Linked DNA regions of Homo sapiens: region 2 is linked to region 1. Evidence: fine-mapped expression QTL. A gene starts in region 1. The other region holds a variant in brackets. All regions are shown on one strand. Distances are between the middles of the regions.

The links. PIP is the estimated chance that this variant, and not a neighbour inherited with it, causes the effect.
Region 2: its variant is fine-mapped to the expression of TCF7L1 in cerebellum (GTEx, PIP above 0.99). The same link has a PIP of 0.9 or more in cerebellar hemisphere.

The regions. Positions count from the first base shown.
Region 1 is chr2:85,130,790-85,135,171 of GRCh38, forward strand. It overlaps TCF7L1 (transcription factor 7 like 1), which reads left to right and starts at 2,603. Exons shown (of 12, transcript NM_031283.3): 1 at 2,603-3,144; 2 at 3,227-3,290; 3 at 3,534-3,661. The coding sequence starts at 2,896. RefSeq lists a silencer at 2,203-2,272 and enhancers at 2,638-3,212, 3,788-4,362, 4,363-4,382.
Region 2 is chr2:85,302,545-85,306,926 of GRCh38, forward strand. TCF7L1 (transcription factor 7 like 1) reads left to right here. Exons shown (of 12, transcript NM_031283.3): 5 at 1-72; 6 at 1,351-1,453; 7 at 1,711-1,794; 8 at 2,716-2,859; 9 at 3,662-3,821; 10 at 3,908-4,015. Among named protein-coding and RNA genes, the nearest start is that of TGOLN2, 23 kb to the right of the region's middle. RefSeq lists an enhancer at 3,669-4,169. The variant C/A (reference allele first, on the strand shown) is at 1,912.

The sequences.
Region 1 (4,382 bases):
GAAGTTAAGGATTTTGACATGGACAGGTTATCCAGGTGGTCCTTAAATGCTATCACAAGTATCACTTTTTTTTTTTTTTTTTTTTTTTTGAGACAGAGTCTCACTCTGTCGCCAAGGCCGGAGTGCAGTGGTGCCATCTCAGCTCACTGCAACCTCCTCCCTCCAAATTCAAGCGATTCTCCTGCCTCAGCCTCCCAAGTAGCGGGGATTACAGGCGCCTGCCACCACACCTGGCCAATTTTTTGTATTTTTGGTAGAGACAGGGTTTCACCATGTTGGCCAGGCTGGTCTGGAACTCCTGACCTCGTGATCCACCTGCCTTGGTTTCCCAAAGAGCTGGGATTACAGGCGTGAGCCACTGTGCCCGGCCACAAGTATGGTTTCTTACAAGAAGGGGGCAGAGGAAAATTTGTCACAGACAAAAAAAGGAGAAGGCAATGTGATTACAGACGCAAGGGTGGGAGTGATGTGGTCACAAGCCCCCAGAAGCTGCAAGAGACAAGGGTAGATTCTTTTCGGAGCCTCCAGAGGGAGCATGGCCCCGTCAACACCTCCATTTCTACTCAGTGAAACTGACAGTGGACTTCTGTCTTCCACAACTATGAGAGGATAAACTTCTGTTGTTTTAAGCCACCAAGTTTTCGTGATTTGTGACAGTAGCAGCAGAAAACTAGTACAATAGGTTTTTCATATATTTATGGACCATAAACATGAAAAATCGTCTGACTTTTAAATCTTATAAAAATAAAATAACACACAATAATACAAAGAGTATGATTCTATGTATGTACATCAGAATATCTGTAAATACGTTTACATATGTTCATAACTGCCTAGGAAAGTGTCTGGAAGGATATATACCAAACTAGTGACAGTGGTTAACCAGAGGCAGTTAACTGAAAGTGGTTAATTAGAAGGGTCCTGTGTCCTGAGGGGGAAAGAGGAACTTTTACTTGTTACTCGATACTGCTCAAGATACATCTGTTATTTGAAAACGCTTTATGAGACTGTACTCATGTATTGTGTAAAAAATTAGAAAAGGCATATCTGCTTGTTATAAAGTTCATAGAAACCAGAAAACTATCTCCTTTCACTTATCCTTTCCCAGAAATAGTCATTGATAATAATTTGCATCTTCTCAGATTTTTTTCTACGCAGAAATAAATGTGTATAATTTTTTTAAAAACAAAAATAAAATAGTGAGTGTCATATATAGTGTTTCATTTAAAGATGTTCCTCCAAAATCAATCTTGGTCCATGTGCCTGTGTGTGTGTGTGTGTGTGTGTGTGTGTGTGTGTGTGTGTGTGTGTGTATGGGTGGGGGGAGGGGCGGGGACACTGCATAGAACTGGCCAGCTGCATGGACTGTCACTGTAAAGAAAGATGAAGAATGCATGTCACCAAGCTCTCTGATGCTTTGAACCTAGCATATGTGGCTTTGCCCATATGTGCGGGCACCTCTGTAGAAACTCTTCTGCCAGTTGGGCTGAAAATAGTTTTACATAGTTCCATACTGCCTTCCAAGCTGTTTTCAAAGTTTATGCTCTAATAGTTCCCCACGGAGGATAACACAAGATATTCATTTTCCTCAAACTTTCCCGCACAGGTTGGAGAGAAACGACATCTTAATGTCATTGTAACAGGCATTTCTTTATTAAAAAAATTTTTTTTTTGGAGACAAGGTCTTGCTATGTTGCCCAGGCTGGTCTCAAACTCCTGGGCTCCAGCGATCCTCCTGCCTAGGCCTCGGGAGTAGATGGAACTCCAGGCGCGGGCCGTGGCGCTCGCACCACAGGCATTACTTAGGTATGAGGCTGGTTGAGCATTTTTCTCGTGTTCACTGGCTACTCACGCAGCTTTGTGAATGGCTTCGGAGATCACTGGACAGGCAATTTTCCCTCTCAATGAACCAAATCCAAATTCTTTTGGAACCCAAGACCGCGATTTTTCGATTTAGGACCTAGTCCCAAACAATGAAGAAAAGGTGATCTTCAAGATTTCAGCAGGGAAATCTGTATATCTGTACAAGGTTGAAAACCTGGGCCGGGGGTCGCGTTGGAACCCCACAGGAAAAAGGCGCGGAAAGCCGCCGGGCATTTTCCGGGGTTCCATAGATGTCCCCAGTGTCCTAGTCCGTGCATCAGCTCGCGCACTCGGAGGGACTCTAGGCAGGGGGAGGGCCCCGCGGCCAGTATGTGCGTCCGAGGCTTTCCCGCAGGGGGCAGTGCCGCCCGCCCGCGCGCCGATACGGTGGGAGGGGGTGGGAACCTGCGCGGAGTTCTGGAGGTTCTTTGGGAGAAAGTTAGGGGATGCGGAGGGGTGGGCGCAAGACTTCCAGGACTCCAGGGAGGCCGTGGGGAGGGCCGCCGAGGGTGCAGTGTGAGGCGCAGGAGGGGGTTGGGGGCGGTGCACGTTGCAGGGAGACGCAGCCCCTGGAAGATGCGAGTGTGAACGTGTGAGTGTGAGTGCGTGTGTATGTGTGTGTGTGCGCGCGCACCGCAGCTCTCCGGGTTCCGCGAGGCGCGCGGGTGTCAGCTTGCAGCCGGGGCTCCTCCCTCCGGCCCCCCTGCCCAGCCCGGCGGTCCCTCCTCCCTCCCTCCCCGCTCGCCCCTCCCCGGCGGGCCAGGGGCTGGGACGCCCCGGCGGAGCAGGCGGCGGCGGTGGCGAGTTGGGGAGCCCTAGGCTCGGCGCTGCCGGAGGGGCCCGAGCCGAGCCGCCTGCGCCCCGGCCGGGCAGCGCCGGGCCCGCTTCCCGCGGGGCCACGCCCTGTCAAACTTTGTTGCGGCGGCTAGCGCAGCGGGCCCGCAAGCGGGCGGGAGGGGCGCCGGGCCGGGCCGGGCAGGGCGCGGGCGGCTAGGGGCTCCGAGAGCGGCGGCCCCGGCCCGCGGCCCCACCATGCCCCAGCTCGGCGGCGGGGGCGGCGGCGGCGGCGGCGGCAGCGGGGGAGGCGGCGGCTCCAGCGCCGGGGCGGCCGGCGGAGGGGACGACCTCGGGGCGAACGACGAGCTGATCCCCTTCCAGGACGAGGGGGGCGAGGAGCAGGAGCCGAGCAGCGATAGCGCCTCGGCGCAGCGGGACCTAGACGAGGTCAAGTCGTCCCTGGTCAACGAGTCGGAGAACCAGAGCAGCAGCTCGGACTCGGAGGTAAGGAAGCACCGCGGCCACCCCCGGGGGATCCCGGCCCTGCGTCCGCTCACCCGCTCTTGCCTTTGTGTCTCCTCCGCAGGCGGAGAGGCGCCCGCAGCCCGTCCGGGACACTTTCCAGAAGCCGCGGGACTATTTCGCCGAAGGTATGTGCCCGCTGGGACAGCCCCCCACTCTCGATTCCCGCTGCGCTCCGCTGCTCAGCCCGGGCGGCCCACCGTCCCCCTTGCTTGGGTGGACGCACCCTTGCCCTCCGCCTTTATTGGCGGCAGCCCCCGTGGGGCGCGCGTGGGGGGCGCTGGGGTCCCCAGCTCCCGCCTCGAGCCCCCTGCCGCGGCGCTGTCAGTCCCGGGGGCCTGGGCCTCACCTCGCCTTGGTCTTGTTCGCAGTGAGAAGGCCTCAGGACAGCGCGTTCTTTAAAGGACCCCCGTACCCTGGGTACCCCTTCCTGATGATCCCGGACCTGAGCAGCCCGTACCTCTCCAACGGACCCCTGTCTCCCGGAGGAGCGCGCACCGTGAGTGCCCGTCGGGCGCGCCGGGGAGGGTGGGAGGCCGCGGCCCGCAGGATGCGCCCCCGGGCTTGGCCATGGAGTGGGGGATGGGGCCTTCTGCGCCGATCCCAAGCAGAACTTGTTTGCGGAGTTGAACTACTCTCTGGCGGCCGAGCGCGAGGCTGCGCTGGCCAGTGCCTGGATGAAAGTAAAGTTACTTTAACTTTTCCCCTCTTGCGGGTTGAGGTTTTGGAGTCCACCTCTGGGATCTTCCTTGGCCTCCAGAATTCTTCGCCTGCACCGAAGGAAACTTGGATTTGTGCCCGCTTTGGGGGGGTCTCGCTTTCCTTCTTGGAAATCGGTCAGCTTTCTCTGGCAGTGGGGCAAGGGGCCTAGGGAGCTGGGTTGGCGACGTTGTCCTCCGACTCCGGGTTCACTGGGCGGCTGCAGGCTGGTTCCTAAGAAACCCAGTTTTCGTGGCGGGTTATTCACAGCCCCCGTTCCCACCCCCAGCCCTCGCACCGGGGCCTCAGCTTTTCTGCGGAGCTAGCTCCGAATTTTAAACTCGCGTAGATGATTTCGAGGCGACCCAAGGCATTCTTCAAGTTGAGGAACTTGGCTTTTTCCCCCTTTTGTCGCCTGCTTTTCTCATTTAAAGCGAGCGCTGCGACACTTTAAACCTGTTAATGGGCGCGTATTGTGTGCTGCCCGCTGGCATTTAGAGCGGTGATTAAGCAAATTGACC
Region 2 (4,382 bases), 170 kb after region 1:
CCTACAGCAATGACCACTTCTCCCCCGGCTCCCCTCCCACCCACCTCTCCCCAGAGATCGATCCAAAGACAGGTAAGTCGTCTGCCACTCAGGCAGTGCTGCTGCAGGGCAGGCGGGCTTCTCTTTTGTGGGAACATAACAGCCCTTGAATCAGGCTGACCTGGGTTCAAATCATGGCTCTTTGTCTCAGGAGTCTTTGGACCTTGTCTGCTAACTTTAGCCTTGTCATTTTTTTTTTCATCTGTGCCTCCCCTGTACCTTCTCCACCATAGGGTCACGATAAGGCCCACAGGAATTAAATGCAGTAAAGCACAGGGCCTGGCTCCATAGGCAGTGTGTGGGGTGGCTCTGCCCAAGTCTAGCCCAGCTGTGGGCCGTGCTTCCCTACACCAAGACATGTTTGCCCTAAACTGAACATTTTTAAATAGATTCATCAGTCTAAGCAGACACAGAAGTGCAACCGTAAAGCAGTGAGGCCAAACTGGCTTTTATTTATTTATTTATTTAAGACAGTCTTGCTGTGTCGCCCAAGCTGGAGTGCAGTAGTGTGATCTCAGCTCACTGCAGCCTTGACCTCCCGGGCTCAAGCAGTCCTCCTCCCTCAGCCTCCCGAGTTGCTGGGACCACAGGCGCATGCCACCATGCCCTTGCCCAGCTAATTTTTGTATTTTTAGTAGAGATGGGTTTCTGCCATGTTGCCCAGGCTGGTCTCAAACTCCTGGACTCAAGCAGTCAACTCACCTAAGTGCCGGGATTACCGGTGTGCCACCATGCCCAACCTGAACTGGCTTTTTTTTCTTTTTTTTTTTTTTAACTTGCCCACCAGACCTGTCCATTCCAGGGAGCCACTGTCTTTATAGCATTCACACAGAGTTGCCAGGGGAAGGCAAAGCATTTTTGGAGCCCCTCTTTGGAGAAATAACAGTCACTACAAGTTACAGATAATGAGGAAGACACATGTGGAGGAGGAATCCAAAGTTTATTTCTCCATGAATGAGGCGGGCTTTCTAGAGACTTGGTTCACCAGTGACTCTTGTCATTGGTCTTGTGGGTCCTGTCCCTCTCTTCCAGGACGCTGGCTTCTGTATCACAGCCAGCTGGAAGATACTCTTCACAGAGATAGAATCCGTGCAGCTAGAGAGGGGGTGCATTAGTCCTGCCTCCCCTGAATATGTCCTTGACTGACTGGTGAGAGCTGCTAGGGAGTTGACAGAGGGCAAGGACAATGACACAAGCACCTGCTAGGCTCCAGAGCACCAGGGACATAGGGCAGGATGCTCCCATTTGATGTTCGTTAAGGTGCTCTGGCAGGGCGAGGGAACAGTCTGACATATCTCTCTTTGGAAGCAGGAATCCCCCGGCCCCCTCACCCATCCGAGCTGTCACCGTATTACCCACTCTCTCCCGGAGCTGTCGGACAAATCCCCCACCCCCTCGGCTGGCTCGTCCCACAGTAAGGAACCCACAGCCTCTCTTCCCCCTGCTCCCTCCTTGCGCTGAGCTCTGCCTCTGTGCCCTGCGCGCCCTGCACAGTGGAGCCCCCTCAGAGGCAAGCCCAGGACTAGGCCTCCCTGCCCCCGCCCAGGCAGCGTGCTCCCAGCATTACCTTCCCGCTTCCTTCCCATATTTCTCATCCCTTCTTCCCAAGTGCCTCTCTTCCTCTGCCCTGAGCTTTCCCAATATGCTGACCAGATTTCCTCCCCCTCACAGGCAAGGCCAGCCCATGTACTCCCTTCCTCCCGGTGGCTTCCGGCACCCTTACCCCGCCCTCGCCATGAACGCCTCGATGTCCAGGTGAGTCCCGGGGCTGGGGCTGTCCGCATGTTTGTCTTAGCAACCACGCCATTTCTGACCACGAAACAGCTTTTTCTTGCCAGTTAATGAGCAGGCACAGGGCTCACCCTCCCCCCA[C/A]CTCTCTTTGATCAAGCATCTTCTCACGTCCCGCGCTCCCCACCCCCAGGTCAGAATGGAGACCACAGGATCACTGTCCCCATCTCTCCAACAGAAGGATTGCAAAGCCCTAGCACTCTGCCTCCTGCCATGGGCTCTGGCACTGAAGCATTTTGAGGACAGATGCTCCCCGACTTAGGATGGAGCCGCGTCCTGATAAACCCGTCGTACATTGAAAACACAACTTTCCCCTTAGAATATTTGCAACATATGATGGTTTTATCCAGACATAACCCCATCTAGGTCAAGGAGAGTACTGAATTAATATCGTTTTTGCACCATCGTAAAGTCAAAATATCCTAAGTCACGGACTGTCTGTATATCACACTGAAGCTAGGGACTGGGAGAAGATGAATTTTTCCTGAAATGATGTCAGGAGAGGAGACGGTGAAAGGGGATTTCTGTCTCAGGGACCAGCTCTACCTGACAGTGGAACCTCTGAGGACAGAGGAAAGCTGCCCACAGCCTAAGCCCTTCTTTTCCCCAGTATGCCCGGGCCTCTGACCCTCCTCCCCTTTTGTGTGTTTCATCCCACCTGCTTCCAGCACCAGATGGGCAGCCTGGGTGTTGGTGGGGAGAAGGAAGAGCCATTAAGCATCTCCCAAACCTGGTTTTCTAGAAGACGACAAATAGCCTTCTAGTCCTGAGACTCTGCCCCACGGACATGCCTGTGCCCTTAAGGCAGAGAGCCACCGTGTCCTCTGCTGGGTGGCAGGTATCCAGCCTGAACCCCTCTGTTGCCATTTGTTTCTATCCGGTGCACAGCCTGGTCTCCAGTCGGTTCTCTCCTCACATGGTGGCTCCTGCCCACCCTGGCCTGCCCACCTCAGGGATCCCCCACCCTGCCATCGTCTCCCCCATCGTCAAGCAGGAACCGGCACCCCCCAGCCTGAGCCCTGCAGTGAGCGTGTAAGTAAGCGGCAGCCTGGATTCAGGTGGGAGGGTGCAGGCTGTGGGGAGGGGTGGCCACACTCTGAGCAGCAAATGTCATGTACTCTTCTCTCTTGGTGTCACTCAGCAGGCATCACAGCCTCCCCAGCCAGGCCCTCCCTCTTCCTCGGGACTTACTCCCTCTGACCTTCTGGGTCCCTGTCCTTTCAGGGACATGGTGCATCTTCTCTCTTATTAAGGAAAGTTTTACTGTCAGGTCTCAGAGGCTGAAAGAGAACCTGAGAAAGCTTTTAACACCCCACCGTAAGATATATGAAAAGGTGAGGCCCAGAAAGGAGACAGTGTTTTCTTAAGGACTTGTGGTGGGCTGGTGGCCGAGCTGAGATGAGCACCAGGGTCCTTACCTTGCCCGTGTACCATAAAGATGGCAGGAAGCCAAAGTCAGTGCTCCCTGGAGATCCCAAGAGAACCCCCTCCCAACTTGGTTCTGCCCAGAGTGCCCCACACTGTGTCCTGTCACCGCCGCCAGCACCTGCCAGCTCCAGTGAGAGCTCATCTCAGCAACCCCACCATGCTCTGTTCCTCTGTCAGGAAATTGGAGAGTAGATTTTCAAAGAATCTGGCGTGGAGATCGTTCAAAGGTGGGAAACTACGGGAGGAAGGTACTCAGGTGTTGAGTGCAGCCATGGGGCCACTTGAATTAGCATCCAGGCAGCCCGCGCCCCTCCCCAGAGACAATCAGCGGTGTTTCAGTGACAGGTGGGGATTGATGAGTTGTGTGACACCTGACATGCTAACCTACAACCACGTGCCTTCCCAGGAAATCACCAGTCACCGTGAAAAAGGAGGAGGAAAAGAAGCCCCACGTGAAGAAGCCTCTGAATGCCTTCATGTTGTATATGAAGGAGATGAGGGCCAAGGTGGTGGCTGAGTGCACCCTGAAGGAAAGTGCAGCCATTAACCAGATCCTTGGAAGAAAGGTAAGACCTGCCCTCTCCCTCCAGGCCAGGGAGGCAGCGTCCCTGCATTGATGGCTCCGTGTGGTCTCTGACCCTCTCTCCCCCAGTGGCACAACCTGTCTCGAGAAGAACAGGCCAAGTACTACGAGCTGGCCCGGAAGGAGCGGCAGCTTCACTCGCAGCTCTACCCAACCTGGTCAGCCCGGGACAACTATGTAAGTGCACACTCTGGGCAGAGGACGCTCAGACCCCAGGAACAGCCTCTGCAAGAGGAGGAAGGGTGAAGGAAAGCAACTGCATTTATTTTTATTTATTTTATTTTCTTTTATTTTTTGAGACAGAGGCTCACCCTGTCACCCAGGCTGGAGTGCATGCAGTGGCGCGATCTCGGCTCACTGCAAGCTCCGCCTCCCCGGTTCACACCATTCTCCTGTCTCAGCCTCCCGAGTAGCTGGGACTACAGGCACCTGCCACCACACCCGGCTAATTTTTTGTATTTTTAGTAGAGACGGGGTTTCACTGTGTTAACCAGGATGGTCTCGAGCTCCTGACCTCGTGATCCGCCCACCTCGGCCTCCCAAA